Linked DNA regions of Homo sapiens. The gene in region 2 interacts genetically with the main gene of each other region. Each region holds a gene or a part of one and is shown on either strand. Other genes may lie near its edges.

Region 1 (7,539 bases), on a different chromosome or scaffold from region 2:
TTTTTTTTTTACCCTTTTGTTTCTGAGGGTTAAGGGGGTGGGGTGGGGGTGGTAGTGTGGAGAGGAAAGGAGAAGAGAGGCTGGGGGAGAAAACACAGCTCTGTCAATGGACTGAATGCACCATTAAAACTGGCGTCACTACAAAGGTTAGAGCAGATCTAACTGTCAATACAGTGAGTAGAGTGGAGTCCGGTAAGGGGGAGCTTTGGTGAGAGATACTTTGATATTTTGGAATGTTAGAAGGGTGAATGTGAAAAATTGGAGGTTGGGGATCTAATTACCCAACCATAATTGGGGGCTAGGGAATAAGTTGCAGTCCTCTCAACTCACCGCAGATCAATTATGTTAAGAGAACATCTGTAAGTAGAACTTAATGAGGTCCATTAGAGCAACATGTACAGCCTCCTCTAACAGTACTTGTCAGCTTCTTGGATGAGCTGAAGGAAGCTGCTAACTAGGGACCTGGCGAGGTGTTTAAATACTGGAGGAGCAGCTCTGGCCCACTCAGGTTTTGTATGCAGTTCGGGAAGAAAGTGAGAAAGGGAGAGGCACACAAGAAAGACAGGAAGCCTGAAGCAGAGGTTTCTTTCATTTGTGTTGCTGAATTTCGAAGAGTGATGGTGGGAGTGTGTGTGGTGGGGGCAGTATCAACCTCATCCTTCCCTTGACCGAGACCTTTCACTGCTCCTGGACTTTCAGGGTGTGCTATCCTTTGCCTCCCCCCAACAACCTGTCTGCTGCCCTAAAAAAAAAATTAAAAAAAAAAAAGACGGCAACCTAACCGGAGCATCTCTGGGACGCCACAGAAATCGTAACTGAACACCCGCACACAAAAGTAATCTGTGAGGTGTGTTTTAAAGAAAGAAACAGCTGAAAACTTGAAGACGTGTTTAGAAATATACATATATACACACTATTTTCTTGTGGGAGATCTCCTTTGGGCAAAGGTAAGTAGTATATATCTAATCACCCCCTCAGCACCCTCCTCCACCCCATTTTGTCATTCCCCTCCCCTTTTCCCCTCATCAAGGTATCACAATATAAGACCCCTGAAGAAGACAGTCTGCCTTTTTTTTTCCTTTAATAAGTGTTGGGATGGGGGCTGGATGAAGTAAATTCTCTCATCAAACGTCTGATGATGAGTTGCAGAAAGAGGGCACAGGCAAAAGGTAATCGGACCAAAAAGATCTGGCTCTTTATAGCAATCCTTTCGCAAAGATTTCCAAAGGATCTGTAATTAAACTGGGTAGTTTACTCTCAGGAAATGAAGAAACTGCTTGCCTGGCTGGATCCAACCTTTAGCTTGGCTGAGTAAACAAAAGCACAAATTCTTCTTTCACTTTTTCCCTCGCGGGAGGGGTGAGACTTTGGGGTTGGGGGGAGCCAGGAAAACAGGGAGTTTGCTGAGGGTTAATGGTGTTTTTCGCAAAGTGTCAGCAGAAGATGATTAAATTCCACCTCTTGTTCACCAGATCACTTTGTGTGCACTTGTATATTTCATTGTCGGCAACCGCTGATGATCACATCTGTGCAGTACATTAAGTGGCAAGCCTCTTCATCTGCACGGGGTTTTTCTGATGATTTTTTCTGTGAATAATTCATATGATTATGAAGAGAAAAACTGCTATTTTCTATCTCTCTCCCTTCTGTAGCACAGATTAAAAAAAATCTTGCTGTAAATTGCGTGATTGGGGAGATAGCCTGCTTTCAAATAATTTAATTCATGACAAAACCTAATTACTGTCAGGTAATACCCTGTCAGCTTTAATGCATTTCATCAGTCATAATGAAAAGAAGAGCATTTTATGACCCATCTAATTATCATTACATTTTAGGGGAAAATGAATGGCATGGAGCTGAATGTTAACTATTCCATTTTATTCCTTTACACATGTGGTTTGGCATATTATTCGCTAAGTTCCTCTCTCTCTCTCTGTCTCTCTCTCTCCTCTGTCTCTCCTTCTCTCTCTCTCTCTCCTCCTTGCTTGGCAGTATTACTTGCTTATAAGTGTGGGGGAAATGGTAAAATTGAGAGGAAAAGGAAGATTGGGGAAAAAGGAAGAGGATGGGATGCACTTAGAGATCTGGGTGTTTGTCCCTTAAGAAAAAGGTGACAAAGTGGTTAATGTCTTTGCAGGTTGGTGTTGATATCAGGAATCTTACTGCCACAGTCCAAATAGAGTACTAATTACCGCGAATGATGTCACCGTAGGCAGAGGAATAATCCCATCATTTAATTAGTTGAATGATTTAAACAAAGATTTGCATAGATGCACTAATCAGTTGCCATGAATTACAGAGCAGCAGTTGCCAGCGAGGGGTAACAGATCATACAGTTGGAGGGAAAAAAAATCTCATCTCCTTGAACATAATTAATTTAATTGTCCTCATTAGCTGTACCATTTGTTTTGATTTTATTTCTCCCTTTCCCCACACATACTTCTCCCTCCCTCCCTCCCTCTTTTCTTCTTCTCAGTGCATTGGCTGAGACAGAGCGCACGAGACACACACACATGCATGCACACATATGCACACACACACACTCACACATACTGGGGTGTTTTCAGAGTGGCTGTAGCAGAGAGGTGGGGTAGAACAGTGGGGAGCTGTGCGGATGGGTGAAGTGCATGTATGCCTGCCTAGACGGGCCAGAAAAGCCAAACTTAAGAAATCTGCCTATGTACAGAACAAGTCAACTAAGGGGTTCTCATTAATCTACCGTCTGTGAATATCGTTATTTTTCAGGTTAGTTCTGAGTTTTGTTGCCTTTTAAAGGGAGAGGAAAGCAAACCACAGGCTATTTTATTATGAGCCTTCAAAAGGGAGGGGGTAAAAACTAGTTATCAATGTTGTGCCTTTATTCTTTATGAAGAAAAACAAAATTTAGCTTAAATACTCATGGGGGGGGTGCTTTGATTTTTTTTTTAAAACTAGAGCTAGATTAAAACTGATGGTGAAGAGAAGAAAAAAAGTTTTTTGTAGTTCAACAATTGAATATTTCTTGGCTCTTAAACATTTCAGTGAGTGTCTTTCAAATGTGGACCATTTTTAAGCTTGACCTCTGACAAAGCTTTGTAAAATCTGGTGAGGGTACTTTAAGAGCAGCCCAAACAGAGGGTGACTTTGAAGTTTGAAAACTTAGAAAAATAATAAGGTATTTTAAAGCTACCAGTGGCCTTTATAGATGCCAAGGAAAGTTAAGAGGAGAGGAGGTTAGAGAGAATGGGACCTATTAGAAAAAAAAAAAAAATCTGTCAAGGCCTTAAAACAAGCCTGTGAAGACAAAGCAGTAATGGTGCAGAAACTATGGTTCTTTGACCAAGTTAGTCCTGAAAACATGTTTCTCAGTGCTGTTGGCTGTTTTTCATTGGAGCGTGTGAGTTTTAAATAGTAAGGAATTCAAGTAATTGCAGGAAGTGTGTTTCGGGGTGGTGGTGGTGGGGGTCAGCATTAGTGAATGGAGAACAAGTTCACAGTTTGGGTCTTGGGCCATTAGAGGAAGGGAGGAAGGGAGGAAGGAGAGTGTGTGTGTGATCCCCTGAACCAGGCTTGTGTGGCGGACTTGCGGAGCAGCGACTTCAGAGAGTTCATGAATGGAAGTCACAGACAGACCAGCGACTGCAGCCACCTCCAGGCATTTCTTAAAGGGGAGGGTTGTGTGCTTTTTCCAGGGTATTCTGGTAGCAGTTTGATTCTCTTGCTTTTATTTTAATTTCCATAATTGGTAGCTTCAGAAATGGCTTTGGAAGGCAATTTGCTTTAAATGTAGCCACCTATTCCAAAATGCCCTGGTTATTTTAGGAACCCTACCCTTTTCCTCCGGAGCTCTCTCGCAGGAGTTCTTCTTTTGGACTGGTCCAGGAGGTAGGGTCCTTCCTCAGTCGACTCCTGCAGAGGTCACATTTTGTGTGCGGGTTTGTCCCCAGCGTTTGTGAGTAGCATATGCATGTGGTTGTGCTGACTGCACTCGCAGGCTTGTAAATTTTCACCCTGGGAAATTAGCAACAAAGCCCGATCTGTCTCGTGGCTGCTTTGCACTTTCCGAGGGCGGCTGTACTTGACTGAGCTGCAGAACAGGCACACGAGAGCGAGCGAGGGAGCCAGCGAGAGAGGGAGGGAGAGAAGGAAAGAAGAGGGGAGGGGTGGGGGCGAGAGGTAAATAGTCTTAAATCGGAAGGGAGCTGCTTCTCTGTGGTCTTGACAAGCGCTGCCTGGGCTCCGCCGGCTCACTAATAACTGAGTGACCTTTTCTTTGGCTGTATTATGTCTGGCTGGGAAGGGATTGCATTTTGCAGCTGAGAGCCGGAGCTTCCTTCAGCTCGGCTCCTCGCACGCTGCTGGGGTAAGTTGTCTTGAACCAGGACGGAGAGAGACAGCCTCGGACTGCAGTTGCCTAAAAGGAGGACACCTGTGGCTCAGATGCGGTCAACACCATTGCTTGGCGTATCCTTGAGGACCTCATTATTTTAAACTTAAAAAAAAATAGACATTCCCTCCCCCGTCTTTTTTTTTTTTTTCAAACAATGCTTCTTTTTGACCTTTCCCAAGGAGAAGCGCTACAAAGCAGCCACTGTGCTTACTGAACGGCCTCCCCCTGTATCGCTTAATTGAGAAGGTAAGTGCAGCAACTGTGTACACACGCGTCGGCTTATTTGTGGTGTGTGTGTCTGCGGGTGCGCGCGTGCGTGTGCGGATGTGGGTATTTTTTTCTTCCCCAACCTCTGCTAATGAGGCATAAACTGGAGCTGCAACCCAGCTCCGCACTGCAACTTTCACTCGGGCTGCAGCTCTACTGAGACGGTTTTGTTTAAATCATGTGAGGCTTCATTATTTTTATGATGAGACATGAAATAGATGCAGGCGGAAGATGTTGATGGAAGGAGGGAGAGCGGCTGCGGCGCGGAACGTCTCAAGTACGACTCGAGTGGATAATAGTCAAAGTTCACCATGAACTGCAGTATTTCCACACCCCTGACTCCCGGGGAGAGAGGGGCAGGGAGAGTTTGGAATTAGGAAGTGTTTGCTCCCAGCCCATAGGAAAAGAATTCAGTCCTGGGTGGGTTTCCGGACCCCTCCCCCTTACTTGCTGGAATTCATGAACCCCCACTTCTTAAAGAGTTGATATTACAATCTTTTGGTCCTTGTTGACGCTTCTGCCTCTCTCCACGCAGCCATAATAACAAAATGTTGTTCCTTTGCCGTGGAAAAGTGGCTGTGTTTGGGCATGGGGGCGGGGGGGGGGGGCAGGCGGGTAGGGGCAGAAGTGGCTAGAAGAGGGAAGGTCCCTGGACCAAGGTGCCTATATCCTAATAGATTGAGATTCAAACTGATGCAGCACATTTTTTACGGGGACTACTCAGATTGCTGTTATGAAATACAAGTCAGATTTATGATCTTTTTCATATTGAACATGATATGCTATGCTAACGCTGCATGTGACAGTTTAATCAAATCCATTTGTTACCAGGAAGCTAAAAGGGGCCGCTGGGATTTTAGGATTACGGGCAGAGTTAGGGAAGCATGTGGCTTTGTCATTCGCCATCATTTTGCACACTGCGAGGGGCTCCGTGTGTGCGCCCTGTCTTGTCTGGCCGTCCTCATCCCTTCCCCCACCCCCTGCCGCCACTCCGACCCGCTCCCAAAGTGGCTTCACAATAGTCGGTCCTCGGCGGTGTAGGCTGCGCACCAGGTCCACACTTAAGCGAAATCAAGGAGACCCCCTTCTACTTCTACCTTTGGGTTTGGTGCTCAATGCGAAGCTGCTGCAACTCAGACACGCCTAAGTCAACTCATGCAGAAAAAGGAGAAAAGTTTTGGTAAGGTTACAGTCTATCATAGATGCACTTTGCTGGCGCTCTGCACTCCTGGCCGCTCAAAAGCCTTTCTGCTTTTCCGCTGCTTTTGTGTCTTTCTGAAAGAACCGAAATATTATTGTTGTAACTGCTTTGAAAGACTGCTGCTTAAACCAATTAATCTTGCTAGATGCAACAAATACTGCTACATTCTTTGCAAACCATCCCTGTGTGGCTGCAAAGACACAACCACAAAAGGCTGGAGCATAAACTCCGCAAGGGATTCTTTGTTAGAGTGTATGTATGTTTCTTATTTTTTTTTTTTATTTTGCATGTGAGCTGCATCAAAATTGAACTCAGTCTTGCAAATCTCTTGTTGGCCTTTGCCAAGCACTAGCACTTTGCTGCCATGGTAACTGTAATTAAACTGATAAGAGTGGAAAAATGTCAGTATCTCTGAGCCTTGCAGCTGCATTGGAGAAAAAGGGAATCAAATTGGTTCCCAGCTCCATTGCTCAAAAAGGGGAGGGGGGTGAAGGATAGGGAAGGGGGCTGGGAGTTGAAGGGGCAGAACAGAGTTAAGCAGCTCCAGTGCCTGAGATCTGGGGACATCTATTTGCATTGTTGTCCCTTAGGGGGCTGCAGCCTGTAGGGATGCTCTGGGCCAGTGAACAGAGAGAAACAAGCTTTTAGGCCCAATCCAGTTTTCCAACCTGGGTTGGGGGCTGGGAAGAGGATGAAGATGGGCAGGAGGAGAGAAAATCTTTTGTCTGGTGCCTCTTGGCAATCGAATGGCCATGTTGGCCAAATTCTTTTAATCTGTGTCAATGCTCCCAGCTGCAGAACCTGCATTCCCATTTTAGCATCTTTCTGAAGCACCTCATCTCTTCCAACCCCCTTTATGTATTCCCTCTTCCTCTTCCCTCTCCCAAATTGTTCTCTGTGAATTTTCCGACGGACAAAATGTTTTCTATTCACTCTGTGTAGTTAGTCCAAAAATGTAAGACTGTGTCTAAGTGCTGCAAATCTTTCATTATTATTATTTTTTTTAAACCCCTGTGTGTTGTGGAGTTGTGGTTACTTTGTTGTGTTAACTACTGAAGCTGAGACTGTGCGGATGAATGGTACAGAACAAGGGAACATAATGGAGGCAATCAACCGTTAGGCCGCTTCACAATGCAATCCAGGCAATTAAAAGCTCACCAGAGTTTAAATGAAATGGTTCTACTTATTTCTGCACACCACACTGCACAGGCTATTATTTATGTCTTTTTTTTAATTATGATTTCCCTTAAACTGTCAAATAACTCAGAATGGCAGGGTCTCAGAGGCAATAAGAATTTCCCTCAGAACAATTTACATGCCAATCTAAAACTAGTTATGAGTTCTGATGTGCTATGAGCAACTTGTGAAATGTTTCTTAGCTACAAACACGTAACTCTACCCAGACATGTTCTTCTGGTGGAAGAGGGGAGACTGCTGACTGCTTTATGCCTTTTAAGTACACGGTAACATGGTGACTACAAAATAGTTCTTTTGCTACAATTGTTAACTTGCATGGAATTCAAGAGATTCCATTTTCAAGAGAATTGCCATGATGTTCTTCAAATAAGGTACCAGGATGGAGTGTGAAATATCAAACTCCTTTTATGCCCAAGGCCAAACAGAATGTAAGAGTTTCAAATATTAATTGGCCTCTGAGTGCTAAATTAAAATGTCAACACAACAAAAACATTTTGTGAAGACA
Region 2 (7,157 bases):
GTTGCTGATTAACTATTTGACCCACGAGGCTGCTTTAGCCCCTTCAGTGAGACCCTAACTTGACCATATTCCATTCCCCATGCACCTTCAGGGCACCAAATAAGAGTGGGGAACAGAATCAGATGAAAAAGTCTCTTAGAATGGGCAGGGAGTGGCATAACCCAGTAGTTAATGAGGGCCGACCAGCAGACAGCAGTCAATGTCATGGCAGAGCCTGGCAGAGCCTAGCAGAGCAGGCACTGGTTCTGAAAGATTTGGGGGGAACCTGGAAAGGGTTAACATGCTTCCCCGGGAAGGGTTTAGTTCCTCAGAAGAATCTGGGTCAGTGTATTTGGGAAGTTTTTAAAAAGTCAGACGCTCAGTAGAAGCATTTTAAGAAGCTTGCAAAGCTTATTGGGGCCATGGCAGAAAGGAGGGTAACTTCATAGGCTCATCACCTTTCACCAAGAGGATTTTCACCACACAGGAAAACCCTACGTTTTCCAAAAGCAACAGACAATTTTCTGTCATCACCACTTTTCCATCTGTTTAAAATAAGAAAGAAAATTCCTTCCCCTTTGGCCCAGGTTGCAGGTCAACAAAGGAGGCATTGTTCATCATTTCTTCAGAACATGACAGGGCACAGCTCACTCTGCAGTGTAAGAAAACATTTTTTAAAAAAAATCTCAGAGTAGCCTTAGGGGCAACAGTGAGTAAACCAAAGCCTTCGATGAGGGAAATGTTTGGTTGCAGACTGGAGGACTATCCTGGAAGGTGGAAATGAGGCTTAGGTTAATACGGTCAGAGCCATGATTCCTTAGTTAGACTCAGGAATTAAATCTGAGTTCCTGAGTTCCTGGTTGGGGGTTGGGAACACTGCATTAAAGGGTAGGCAGGTTTGAGTTGAACTCAGTTCCCAAGAGCGTGCGGTCAATGTCCAGAGGAGCTGGATGTAGACAGATGCCTCTGGGAGTCAGTCTGCACCTGCCTCCTAGGAACCTTCTTCACTGGCTTGAACTGCCTAACTGCCCTTTCTGCCTCCAAGCCCTGCAATCCACTCTCCCACTTTTGCCAGAGCCATCTTTCTAAAGGGAAACCCTGATGCCTCTTCTTTGCTCAAGAATGTTTCATGGCTCTCCACTGTCTAAAGATAAGGTCCAAAGTCCTTCAGCAAGATGTTTAAGGAGCTTGTGACATGGCCTCAAGCTGCCTCTTCCAGTCCCTCACATTCCCTAGGCTCCAGACCATGTTCCCTGAATAAAGTCTTCAAGTTCCAGGATCTTGGCCTTTAATACCATGGGTACCTGCATCCTCTCCAGCCCACGACTAAGCACATTCCCAATGCCCCAATCCTACCTATTTTTCAAGGTACACAGGCCAATCCCTCCAGGAAGTTTTCCAAGGTACCCCAACTTAAAAGTAACTTAATTCTCCTGAAACTCCATAGCATTTTACCTCTATCCAGACATACGTCTCTCTTGAACCTACGACTTCCCAGAGGAATTTACTGGGCCATCCGTAGATGTCAGCTGTACACGTTTATATGTATCTCTAGACTGTTAGCTTCCAGAGAGCAATAACGGTCTTACTCACTGCTGTAAACCCAGGTAGACCAGCAATACTGTTATCCATACAAGTATGGTTTCATATTTTGTTTCTGTCCTCCTGATCTCTCAAGCCACCACCTAACTCAGAAAAGAAAGGAAAAATAAAGGAATGTCCAGTCATCAATCAGAAAATCAGCGTCTGTCTGCCCCCGCAGTTTACTGTCAACTTCTAGCAGGCCGCCACTGTATCTCTCACCGTGGAAATCCCAGGGTTTAACACAGTGTCTGACACTGCGCGTGTGTTCCACAATGAAAGAGAGAGGGGGGCTTGCCCAAGGTCACCCAGAGTCAGGAACCACTGAATCTCATCCGGGACGAGATCTGGCGAAATCATTGACAACGTTATCTCAGTGGGGAGCTGGGAGGCCGGAAGGAATGAAGTGTCTGAGAACCGTGCGCCAGGCCTCCGGGACGCGGGAAGGGCTGAGGGGGCGGGAGGCCACATCAAACAAGACGCTGGGCTCCCGGGCTGCCCGGAGCCGCGAGCCGAGCTCCCAGGCGGCGGGAAGGGCGGAGGGGGGGTGGGGGCACGGGGGCCGGCGACCCGGGCAGGCGGGAGGGAGGCGGAGGAGGCGGCCGGCCGGCCCAGGCAGTGCGCGCCGCCCGCCCGGCTCGGCAAATCCCCCAGGGAGGCCGCCGCCAGAGCCCTGGCGCTCCCGGCCCGGCGCCCGCCACGTGGCACCCGGCGGCGGCGGCGGCGACTCCTCCCGGCGCGCGGCCCGGCCAGCAGGCAGCACGCAGCCGCCCGCGCCGCCCGCCTCCTCCCGGGCGCCCGCCGGCGGCCTCCCGGGCGTAGTGAGGGGGAGCGGCCCGGCCGCCCGGGACCCGGGGAAGGGGCGGGCGGCGCGAAGCCGCTTTAACCGCAGTCGCCGAGCGGAGGCAGGAGGCTGACCCGGCCGCTTCCTAAGTGCGGTCAGGCATCCCGTGACCGCGGCGGGCGCCCAGGGCCCCGCGGGGAGAGGGCGGGGGCGAGGAGCAAACTTGGAGGCCCCCACCTCGCCCCCGGGCTGTTGCGAATGCGGCTTTCGGCCGAGTGAAAACCCCAAGCCCGAAAGTGAGGGTGGGGAGGCGGGGGTTGGAAGAATTCCCCACTCTCCACCCCGGGTGTGCGCTCCCCGCCGGGAAGAGCTGACCTTGGCCTGGGGAGGCGGGGGTGGGGAGAGAGGGTAAGCGCCGGGGCTCGGCTCCCAGCCCGCCGCCCCCTCGGATTCCTGGCCCGGCGGGGCCGGAGGAGGGGGCCCCGGACACACACACACACACACCCCCCACACGCAGCGCGCGCCAATGAGCCCGGGCCAGGCGCAGGGGGCGGGGTTTTCCCAGGCTCGAGCACAGCAGCTGCTATTTACCTTCTTGGCTTCTCCCGGGGACCAGGAACCGGCCCCCGCTCTCCGCCGCCCGTCGCCGCCCCCCGCCTCCCTGCCCCCGGGGCGCGCGCACACACACTCACTCACACACGCACGCACACACACATCCTCCCGGCCCGGCCGCAGCCGCGGCGGCAATAAAACATCCTGGCACGTGCTCCGGCTCCAGGCGCGCCCACGCCGGCCGGCTGATGTCAAACTGCAGCTCGGCTGGTGTAGCTCTTAAAGGGCCCGCGGGCGCCGGGGGCCGAGGCCGCCCGCGGGGCGAGGAGGGAGAGGCTGCTTCCTTGCCCGCCACCTCAACGCGCCGCAGAACCTAAAGCCTACGGATGAAAAGGGAAAGGGTGGTGAAGGAGGGCGCGAGTCCCTGAGTCATTGCCCTCGGAGCCCCCCTTGTTCATTTTTTCATTTGAAATACCGTTTCCTTCCACCCAGTTGGAAATTATTCTGATTGTTTCCTGGGGAAGCCCGGGGTCTAAGGCCCCAAATCCAAACGAGGAATTTCTGAAAGACGGGGTGGGGGTGGGATTCAAGAACTACCTTGCTCCGAAAAACCTGCATTTGTGAGGTAGAAGGCAATTTTTCCTTTTTCTGCATGGAAACAGGAAAATTTTTTTGGCCCTTTTCCTTTACCATCTACTTTCACCCTCCTGAATGTAAAGTCTGAGCGGGAACTTTAGATGTGTCGGTAACTCACATTCTTACACCCGTCCCCCCCTCCCCCCGCCCCCTTTTAACCACTGCTGTTTTTTTCTTTATTGTTTATACCTTTAAAAAAAATATGTTTCAAATGAACTTACTACAGTCAAAGCAGCTCTGTTACATATGAGAGAGGGCATAAAGAGCAAAGACCCTGGCTCCAAAAGAAATAGACAAGATCAAGACCAAAGCGGAAAGAAAAAAAAAATCTCTAAACCAAAGCCCAGAGGGAGAGTAGCAAAGGGTTAAAATCCTTTTGATTGACGTTGTAGCCTCCGGTGCCCTGGGCTCAGGCGCGCGCCATTGGCCGCCAGACCTTGTGCCTGGCGGCCAATGGGGGGGCGCGGTCCACGAGCGGTGCCGCGTGTCTCCTCCTCCCATTGGCTGAAAGTTACTGTGGGAAAGAAAGTTTGGGAAGTTTCACACGAGCCGTTCGCGTGCAGTCCCAGATATATATAGAGGCCGCCAGGGCCTAGGGATCACACAGGATCCGGAGCTGGTGCTGATAACAGCGGAATCCCCCGTCTACCTCTCTCCTTGGTCCTGGAACAGCGCTACTGATCACCAAGTAGCCACAAAATATAATAAACCCTCAGCACTTGCTCAGTAGTTTTGTGAAAGTCTCAAGTAAAAGAGACACAAACAAAAAATTCTTTTTCGTGAAGAACTCCAAAAATAAAATTCTCTAGAGATAAAAAAAAAAAAAAAAGGAAAATGCCAGCTGATATAATGGAGAAAAATTCCTCGTCCCCGGTGGCTGCTACCCCAGCCAGTGTCAACACGACACCGGATAAACCAAAGACAGCATCTGAGCACAGAAAGGTAAGGGCGGTACCTGTATCTCTTTGCAGCCCCTCAAAATTAAGTAGGGGTTGGGGGGCTTCTTTCTGTCTTGAAACCCCGGGATGGCAGATTCCATGGGAACACAGAACTCTTTTTTTTATTTGCAGTCATCAAAGCCTATTATGGAGAAAAGACGAAGAGCAAGAATAAATGAAAGTCTGAGCCAGCTGAAAACACTGATTTTGGATGCTCTGAAGAAAGATGTAAGTGGGGAAATGCTGCTCGCTCTTTTAATTAAAAAACAAACACTTTCTCAGCTACTAAGAGTGAAACCCCCCGCCCTGCGGGGTCTGGCACTCGCTGGTACTGCGTTCTCCCAGGCGGGAGGGCCCGGCCTTATTCGCTGGGGTCCAGAGATAATGCTTGCGCTCCGTGGCCGGGAGGAGGGACCCCCAGCACTCTGAAGCAGCTGACACGGGGCTCACTTTCCTTTCTTGCCTACTCTATGCAGAGCTCGCGGCATTCCAAGCTGGAGAAGGCGGACATTCTGGAAATGACAGTGAAGCACCTCCGGAACCTGCAGCGGGCGCAGATGACGGGTGAGGGCGGCTCGCCGCGTCCCCCTGTGCGGGCGTCCCGCTCGCCTCGCGGTGATTTCTTCCAGACTTCCGCCCGTGGTTGTGAGAGGCATTCAGCTACATTTTACTGCCTTGGCTCACTCTTGCGTTCCCACGGTCTGGGGCTTATTTATAGCCACAACTCCAAGTTGTTACTGTTCCGGAAAGGGAGGGAAAGAGGTTGCAGCCGCGAGGGTGGCGGGCGCCGGGTAGGGGCGAAAGGACTTAGGACTGTGGCGGTTTGGAACTGCGTGGAGCCTGGGGGTCACTGGTTTAGCACTCCTTCCCGTTGCAGAAGGGGAAATGAGGCTTGGATGATGGATTGGGAGGCATTGTCCAAGGTCACATCGCGCGCGGGGGTGGGGGTGACAGATCTGGGGCTGAGATAGGTTTAAATGCAGCTACAGGGAATCGGGAAGGAGTGGCTCGGCTTTTGGCAGCAACGCTAGTGTGGAGAGGTGGCTGGTTTTTTCTAAACCCATCTCACCCTCCCTGCCGGAGGCAGTTTCACGGGCGCATGGTCAGGGAGGCGCGCCACAGGGACCTCCCAGGGCGGAGGCAGTGGCCACGGGGCCAGGGCCGTTCGGTGACCCGTCTGTCTCTTTCTGGCCCGCAGCTGCGCTGAGCACAGACCCAAGTGTGCTGGGGAAGTACCGAGCCGGCTTCAGCGAGTGCATGAACGAGGTGACCCGCTTCCTGTCCACGTGCGAGGGCGTTAATACCGAGGTGCGCACTCGGCTGCTCGGCCACCTGGCCAACTGCATGACCCAGATCAATGCCATGACCTACCCCGGGCAGCCGCACCCCGCCTTGCAGGCGCCGCCACCGCCCCCACCGGGACCCGGCGGCCCCCAGCACGCGCCGTTCGCGCCGCCGCCGCCACTCGTGCCCATCCCCGGGGGCGCGGCGCCCCCTCCCGGCGGCGCCCCCTGCAAGCTGGGCAGCCAGGCTGGAGAGGCGGCTAAGGTGTTTGGAGGCTTCCAGGTGGTACCGGCTCCCGATGGCCAGTTTGCTTTCCTCATTCCCAACGGGGCCTTCGCGCACAGCGGCCCTGTCATCCCCGTCTACACCAGCAACAGCGGCACCTCCGTGGGCCCCAACGCAGTGTCACCTTCCAGCGGCCCCTCGCTTACGGCGGACTCCATGTGGAGGCCGTGGCGGAACTGAGGGGGCTCAGGCCACCCCTCCTCCTAAACTCCCCAACCCACCTCTCTTCCCTCCGGACTCTAAACAGGAACTTGAATACTGGGAGAGAAGAGGACTTTTTTGATTAAGTGGTTACTTTGTGTTTTTTTAATTTCTAAGAAGTTACTTTTTGTAGAGAGAGCTGTATTAAGTGACTGACCATGCACTATATTTGTATATATTTTATATGTTCATATTGGATTGCGCCTTTGTATTATAAAAGCTCAGATGACATTTCGTTTTTTACACGAGATTTCTTTTTTATGTGATGCCAAAGATGTTTGAAAATGCTCTTAAAATATCTTCCTTTGGGGAAGTTTATTTGAGAAAATATAATAAAAGAAAAAAGTAAAGGCTTTTATGTCTTCGAACTGATTCTTCCAGAATATGTAAAAAGGCTTTTGGTGGAATTTGAATTACATGTAATTGGTAATTCAGGAATTGACTCTTTTGTTATTAAAAGAACATTTGTAAAAATCCATCAAACTTTTCACCAATCCTCCATGAACTAAAAAGACTAAATTCCATTTACTTTACAAGCAGCCATCTGGTAAGGCTTCCCTGATAAACTTGTGGTCAGTCTCTTAAAGGATTTCCAAAAAAAATGTTTTTAAGTTGCAGTCGGGTAAGTCTGCAGCCCTTGTTCTTCTAGCTCCTCCTGAGGAAGATTGAACAGGACTAAATTCACGAAGCTAATGGATCCAATCCTATTGCCCATTGCACGTTAAGGGTGGTTCCTGCAGCTCTCCTCTCAGGGTAGCTCACCAGCATCCAAAGCAAAAACACTTCCAACTGCTGCGCCTCCTTCAAGACTTGGGGTCTTCATTAATTAGCCAATCCTTTGGTTCAAATAAGACGTTCCCTAGCACCCAAAAGTTTCCTCTCCGCACCCTCTTAAAGCAAGCTGAAAAGGTCAACAG
Region 3 (7,348 bases), on a different chromosome or scaffold from region 2:
GACAAATAAAAATGGTATACATTTATGATGTACAATGTGATGTGTTGATATATGTTTACACTGTGGAATGAGTAAATCAAGCTAATTTACATATCCATCACTTCACATGCTTATCATATTTTGTGATACCATCTGAATTTTTGTATTACATCTCTTTCTGCTATATCAGCCAAAAAACAGATTCTAAATAAATTGATCTTAAAACCAGATGATCAAATCATTATCTCAAAGGGTTAAACAATGAGTTTAACAAAATTAAGCTTATTGCTCTCAGAAGTTATACATGATCAATAAAACCTTATGCTGTTAATTGGTTTTTGTGCTGTTAATAAATAAAATTAATTAGTTTATTAATATTATTTTTAAGTTTATCATATATTTAATAATAAATATGAATATTTAAATTTATAAATGTATCTATTGATAAATACTTACAAATTTTAAAATAAATATTTTTATCATATCTTTGCTTATCTTTTGTATATCATAATTATATAATATACTAGTACAGTAGTACATGTACAAAGCTTATACATGTACTACTGTACTAGTATATTATGTAGTTATAATTGGGTATATACATATAAATATACATATACTCAGTATGTATGCCCTAAATTTTTATCTATGGGGTACAAAATTTTAAAAAATAGGTTGGAAACAGATGTCTCATAAAAGTAACAAATAATTACAAAGCCTTTGTAGTCCAACAGTATCTGGCAAAGCACTAGATGTGCAGTAAGTATTTAAACTACACTGACACTGTGTTAGTCCATTCTCATGCTGATATAAGAACATACCTGAGACTGGGTAATTTATAAAGGAAAAATGTTTAATTGACTCACAGTTCCTCAGGGCTAAGGAGGCCTCAGGAAACTTATAATCATGATGGAAGGGGAAGCAAACATGTCCTTCTTTACAAGGCAGCAGGAGAGAGAAGAATGAGAGCTGAGCAAAGGGGTAAGCTCCCTATAAAACCATCAGATCTCATGATAACTTACTCTTTTCATGAGAATAGCATTCAATTACCTCCTACCCGGGAATTATGGCAAGTACAATTCCAGTTGAGATTTGGGTGGGGACACAGCCAAACCATATCACTCACTAACCACCCCTGAATGCAAAGGTGGCCATTTATCTAAGTTTTGTGTGTACGTGTATTTCTCCCTTGCCATATGCATTTTGGTGAATAGTTCTGTGTGAGTATATCTGTGTAGGATACAATGACAGAAACAGTAGTACTTTGTGTCTGAGAGTGCAGTTTCTGAATTTAGACCACCTGAATCTCTATCTTAGCTCCATAATTTATTAGCTATGTGACCTTGAGTAGATTACCATCTTTTCCATGTCCTAGTTTTCTTATACACAAAATCGGGACAACAGTACCTACCTACCTCACAGGTTTGTGGTGAAGGTTAAATAAGTTAATATGAGCAAAGTCACTATACCTAGGTCTGACACATGGAAAATGCTCATTGTAGTTTGGCCACCAGAGCTATGGACAGACACACACACACACACACACACACACACACACACACACACACACACACGGGTGAGTATATCTGGATATGTTTATTTTTCTATGTCAATATATATCTGTTCCTCAATATGTATTTATACTGAATAATAATAATAATGATAGCCAACACTTACTGAACATGAGTTCTAGGCATTAGTTTAAGCACTTTACATATATTATCTTGTTCACCTTCAGAAAAAAACATGACATAACATTACATAACATGCTTTGATTATTCTCATTTTACAGATTAGAAAACTAAGGTCCAAAAAGGTTAAGTAACTTACAACTAAATTCACACAGCTAGCATATGACAGAGCCACAAAGCCGGACTTTTTAAGTCACTACTTATCACCTCCCCATTCATTTAATAATATTATTTAATATTACTCTTATAGTCTATAATATCATAATTTGTATGGTGCTTACTATTTCATCAAATATTTTCAAATACATTGGGTCTCATAGCGAGCCTGTGAAATGAGAAGTGCAATATTATTATTCTCATTTTTACAGGAAAGAAAATTGATAGAACTGAACCATGGGTGTCCTTTAGTGGAAGCGTTTCTATGTTACAAATATCTGGGGTACCTCTGTACATAGAGTCACATCATAAATGAACTGAGTACCTATAATGTGTCAAGCTCAGACATTAGTGCTGGGGATATAAGCTACAGACCTCCCCTGGAAGCATCATAGCCTAGGAAGAGAGACCAGTGTGGTAACCAAGAACCAAGAATCACGGTACACAATATGTAGTCTCTAAGGGAGACATGAAAGGAGTGCTTATGGAGCACAGAAGGAGGGGCCATCTGTGCCAGGGAGGTCTTAGAAAAGGCAAAGGGGTGGGGGAGGGGGAGGCTTTGATGGAAGAAAGAATGTGTGTGTGTGAATGTGAATCCATGTCTGTGTCTATGACAGTGTGGCTAGGCATCACTAAGTATGGATCTGAGTGTGTACCTGTTTATACAGGCTTACTTCTGTAAGCATTAATTTTTGTGTATGCTGGCTGCTGGTATAGAATGAGTAAGCCTGAACATAAAAGGGAATTTGTCTGGTATCACACACACCATAGCAGAATTGGACCTGCCCTGATAGGCACACCCTGTCATGACTCCCCAACACCAGGGGAACCAGAGATGCTGGTCCTTTCCCACTGTAGCAGCTGCCCACTCTAGAGCTATGGTGATTAGACCCACCAGTTTTTTTCAATCCATCAGTATGGATGTGTGGTGGTCTAATAGAGCCAGCCAGCTTGTATGATGAAGGGGGAGGAGGTACAGGTGTCTGTGGGTGTGCATCTGTGTGCACACTTCTGGTTGTGTGTGAATGCTTAGCATTGGCTGTTCCTAACTAGAGTGAGAAAACCTCCCTTCTCCCTTCATTGTCACCACCTTGGGGTGTTTATCCACTCACCCATTTCCATTGCCACCTGTATGGGACCGGCTTCCATCTTCACTTTAACGTTCTGGGGATATCTAAAATATACCTCTGTGCTGGGGTTAGGCAGAAGCAAGGCTGGGGAGTGTTGGTGCCCTTATTTGTTGGAGGCACTCCCTCCTTTCCCCGACCCCTGCCCCATTGTGGTCCAGGAATCTCTCAAAGGAGCAAAAATGTGGGCAAAGGCAAATAGTACTTGTGGAAGCCATGAAAAACCCGGAGGGTCACTCCCAGGGGTGGGCTGCTCAATGTGCCTCCCCTGGTGATAAAATCTGCTTTTAGGGCAAAATTAAGGAAGACAAGTGAGGACTCCTCTCTCCACAAATGTTCCCCTAGGAACTGGCGGGGTGGGAGTAAGGCTGTAATGCTCTTTTATTTCTTTAAGCTTGTATGATCAAAACAAGCTAAAATAATCACAAATAATATGTTATTGATATTAACTATGAGTATCTTCATAAAGTGGCAAAATAATTGAACTAGATTTTATTTTTTATTATAAGGTATACAAATTCAGGGCCATGGGATCATGTAAGGCAAAGGCATTATGTACTGGGACACACTGGTAATTTGTGTTTACATCTTGGCACAAGCACTGCCACGCAGTACAATATATTAGCATGTTAAGATGGGCAAGAATGAAGTGCAATAATCAACACATGTAGCATGTCATATTTCAGCTTGAATGAATGAGTGGGTGGAGAGAAAAACAAACATACAGAAAAGTAGAATTATCTCATGTCGTGGTCCGTGAATATGTGGATTCTCTTTCTAGTTCCACCAATGGCTTAATCTATTGAAAGGTTCTTACCATCTATTGATAAGTTAGTCTCATAGCAGATCATTTCTCAAAAATGTTAATATGCTTAATCAAACCTTACTGAAGTATCTTTTAAAATGTAAATGATCTCTAATAAATGTTGGCTGTTGCATGTCTAAATACTTTATTGCAGCATCTTATATAGTATATATTTCCATGTTCTGGACACAAATATTTTTCTAAATATTAAGGGAAAGTGGTGGCTTTGTAATATGCCAGGGGAATTCTTTGATAGTCAATATATTGTTTATTTGTACTTAAATATTTCATCAATAATCTGGAAAAGAGAAATAGCCTGACTACGGCTAGATACTGTTTAGAGGCTAAGATTTCTATCATGAACTGCTTTTCAATTGTTATATTTTATGGCACAGATTCAGTGGGAATCTGATCTGCTAAAATATTTGGGCTGTGAAAACTCCCACACTGTGACAGATGTCAAGTCCAATTAAGTGACTCATGTCCAGGTTTCTGTCCAATAGGATTTCCCATTAAATATCAATTTAGGGGAAAAAAATTCCATCCCCCTTCCTAAGCCTTTATCTCTTCCACCATCTCCAGGCTGAATCAATTGGTACCAGGAGAGCCCAGAAGCCACACACGCATCTCTGCCTCTTTGCTCTGGCTCTCCCACCCTCTTCCCGTCTTTCTCTGCTTCCTTGTCACTGTTACTCCAGGAGACGTTCACTTTTCACCAACCTTTCTCCAAGCATCTCCAAGCCACTGACTATATATATTTTGCTACAAGGTAAAGAGAAGAGGGGCTGGGGACGGGGGATATAGCCAAACCTTGAAAGACTTTGAAACTGGAAAATAGGTGTCTATTTATACAACATACAAGTAAGTGAGGGAAGAGGAAGAGGCAACCTTAGCTCCTAGTTACAGTATTGTGTTCCTGGGAACTGGGGAGATATCAGCTGAACAAAGCCTTATCTCAAAAAAAAAAAAAAAATCACTTCTGAGCAAGATCACATCTCTGTCCTGCACTTCCCAGTTTCTGCTCAGCCGTATTAAGGAAAAGAAAGGCATACGATAGGAGCGGAATCTTATCTTAACCATCTTTCTTATTGATTATTCCGCTATTAGAAAGTGGAGGAATCAGCCCTTTGATGTGATTGTGTTTATCTCTGCATCTCTTTTGTTATTTTTAGAGACCTAGAAGAGGAAAAAAGGCACGAGACTTTTCAACACATCGTTTAAAAAAATCATCAACGAATTTCTTGCAATGTTTGAGAACAATTAAAAGGAAAAAGCGTTTTTTAAAAAATCTATCAACTAAGTGAACAATCATTCATATCGTCTACATCCTGAGATATTATTGTCCCTCGCTGCGGACACCAGCGAGATGACAGCTGCTTTTTCATTTTTGAATGTAATAAATATTTGCTGCTTTTAATATTTTCCGGAATCTCCCCTCGCTATTCCTTGGAATTTTAACTCTAAAGATTGGAGAACAGATTATCAAAAAGGCTTTTGCAAGGTAAGACTCCTTTAAATAATTTTTTTCAGCTTGAAATAAGTTAGATTATTCATACTGTATCTATAGATGCAGTTCATTCCATAAAGAGATAAAACGCATACACGGCATACTATTTATGAATATTTTTAAAGATCTAGAGGAGAATTTAATGTGCTTTGAGGGCAACCCAGGAACTTTTTACCAGAACTACAACTATTTAGTGGCTTATTGTGATTTTCCATTACTCGTCTATTTATTTCTGCCCTTTCAAGCTGACTGTGTAGGTGCAAGTTGTTCTACTCATAAACGTACCCGAGAAAAGCCCGTAGGGAGTCACATGCAGCTCTCTGGGAGCATTTGTTTTTATTTTGCCGTAGAGGACCTGATTTCCTCGCAGGGAAATTAAAGCTGTTTTGGCCCAATTCGCTCCTCTGCAAGTGCGGTGCTGGGAACCGATCACCCATCCCCTTGCTTTTGTTTCTCTAGAAGCAAACGCTCCTATACGTCGCCGACGCGGATTTCTCCCGTGCCGAGCGTCGTGGAGGCTGCCCACGCCGGGGCCCCGAGTTCTCAGCCTGGTCCTCACTCCCGACGCCCAGGGGCGGTGCGTGCAGCCCCTGCAGGGGCCTTTCTCCTCCTGCCGGGCCCTTTCTCGAAGCCCGAATTACCCGGAAGCCCAGCGGTTCTGAGCGGCCCCCTCCCAGAAGGCGCACAGTCCGGGCCAGTGCTCCAGGCGCCCCAGAGAAGCCTGGCCAGGTGGCGTTTCCAAGAGGGCACAGTTAAGTTAGAGGAAGGCTAAGCACCGACATGCCCGGACTTGGCCAGGCCACCCGGGGACAGCTGCAGCCTGCCGAGCTCCGGTTCCGGGAGCGCCCGAACTTTGCCGGCAGAGATGCAGCTCCCGCCGGGACAACACGCGCTGCACCCGCTAGTCCCCGCCTGCCCCGCCCCGGGCCCTTCCCTTCTCTTCCCTTCCCTCTGCATCCTCTCCTCCCTCAGCGGCCCGGCTGCCGGCATTTTCCCGCAAGGTGGTCGCCAGACTGCCGGGCGCATTGTCTGATCCCACGTCGCCGTGTCCCTAGGTCCCCTATGTGTGTGGCTGTCTGCGTGACAGATGGTGCTCCGGGAGCCTGCGAGGGCATCGGAGTCAATTTTCTTTTTAAAGGCTCCCCCACGTTTGTTTAGTCATTTCTTTACGATTTCGGAGAAGCGCGAGGGGTCCAAGAAGCCTTCCCGCCCCCAGCCACTGGCTCTCCGCCTGCGCTCCAGGATGGGGATTCCTGACCGGCCGCACCCCAGAGCCAGGCGCCCCCGGCGCAGCCCCAGACCAGCGCCAGGCCCTCGGGCGCCGCGGCTGCCGGGTTGCTTCGCCGGAGGCCCTCGGGGCGAGAAGTGCACCCCGCGTCTCCCCGCCCCCGTGAAAACCCAGATGTATTCGTTGTTCGAAATCGCTCGTTTGTCCGGGAAGGGGACGAAGGGAGGGAGGAGGAATAGCGCGGTTGGCATTTGGCCGGAAGAGGCACAAAAACCCAGTCGCGACCCCACAGGCCTGCGGTTGTTCCCCAGGCCCAGGGCCACAGGCCCGCTGTGGCCGTCTGCAAGTCGAGGTGTCCAGTCTAGTATGCGGCCTGGGTCAACCGCGTCCCCGCCGGCTCCCGCGCCAGGGCGAGGCGCAGGGCTCGCGCCCTCGGGCCAGATCCTATCGGCGCCCTCCCGCGTCGCGCGCCGGCCTGCTGTGGGGAGGGGGCCCGGGCCGCGCGTCCGCTGGGAGGACCGGCGTGGTAGGCCTCGGCAGCCATCCTTCCAGCAAAATACCCTGATTCCTTTTACTGATTAATTTTCCGACCCCTCCTCAGCCTCCAAAATGATGCTGAGTCCGGACCAAGCAGCAGATTCGGACCATCCCAGCTCGGCGCACTCGGATCCGGAGTCCCTGGGCGGCACGGACACCAAGGTGCTCGGCAGCGTGTCGGACCTGGAGCCGGTGGAGGAGGCCGAGGGCGACGGCAAGGGCGGCAGCCGAGCCGCGCTCTACCCGCACCCGCAGCAGCTGAGCCGCGAGGAGAAGCGCCGCCGCCGGCGCGCCACGGCCAAGTACCGCTCGGCCCAC

Evidence for each region.
Region 1: of HES1 (region 2) and LMO3, changing one suppresses a phenotype caused by changing the other (phenotypic suppression), as found in Homo sapiens cells (one study listed by BioGRID).
Region 3: of HES1 (region 2) and NHLH2, changing one suppresses a phenotype caused by changing the other (phenotypic suppression), as found in Homo sapiens cells (one study listed by BioGRID).

The regions. Positions count from the first base shown.
Region 1 is NC_000012.12:16,603,142-16,610,680, reverse strand, and holds the start of LMO3 (LIM domain only protein 3), read left to right. Parts: upstream 1-4,518; 5' UTR 4,519-4,615; intron 4,616-4,710; exon of another isoform or gene 4,711-4,867; coding exon of another isoform or gene 4,868-4,913; intron 4,914-5,301; exon of another isoform or gene 5,302-5,791; coding exon of another isoform or gene 5,792-5,816; intron 5,817-7,539.
Region 2 is NC_000003.12:194,132,015-194,139,171, forward strand, and holds HES1 (transcription factor HES-1), read left to right. Parts: upstream 1-4,133; 5' UTR 4,134-4,366; coding exon 4,367-4,474; intron 4,475-4,602; coding exon 4,603-4,698; intron 4,699-4,946; coding exon 4,947-5,034; intron 5,035-5,668; coding exon 5,669-6,219; 3' UTR 6,220-6,718; downstream 6,719-7,157. UniProt on the Homo sapiens protein: Transcriptional repressor of genes that require a bHLH protein for their transcription. May act as a negative regulator of myogenesis by inhibiting the functions of MYOD1 and ASH1.
Region 3 is NC_000001.11:115,838,127-115,845,474, reverse strand, and holds the start of NHLH2 (helix-loop-helix protein 2), read left to right. Parts: upstream 1-4,348; 5' UTR 4,349-4,527; intron 4,528-4,771; exon of another isoform or gene 4,772-4,930; 5' UTR 4,931-5,259; intron 5,260-7,094; 5' UTR 7,095-7,102; coding exon 7,103-7,348. UniProt on the Homo sapiens protein: Transcription factor which binds the E box motif 5'-CA[TC][AG]TG-3'. Involved in regulating energy expenditure, body mass, voluntary physical activity, mating behavior and reproductive longevity, acting through the hypothalamic-pituitary-gonadal axis.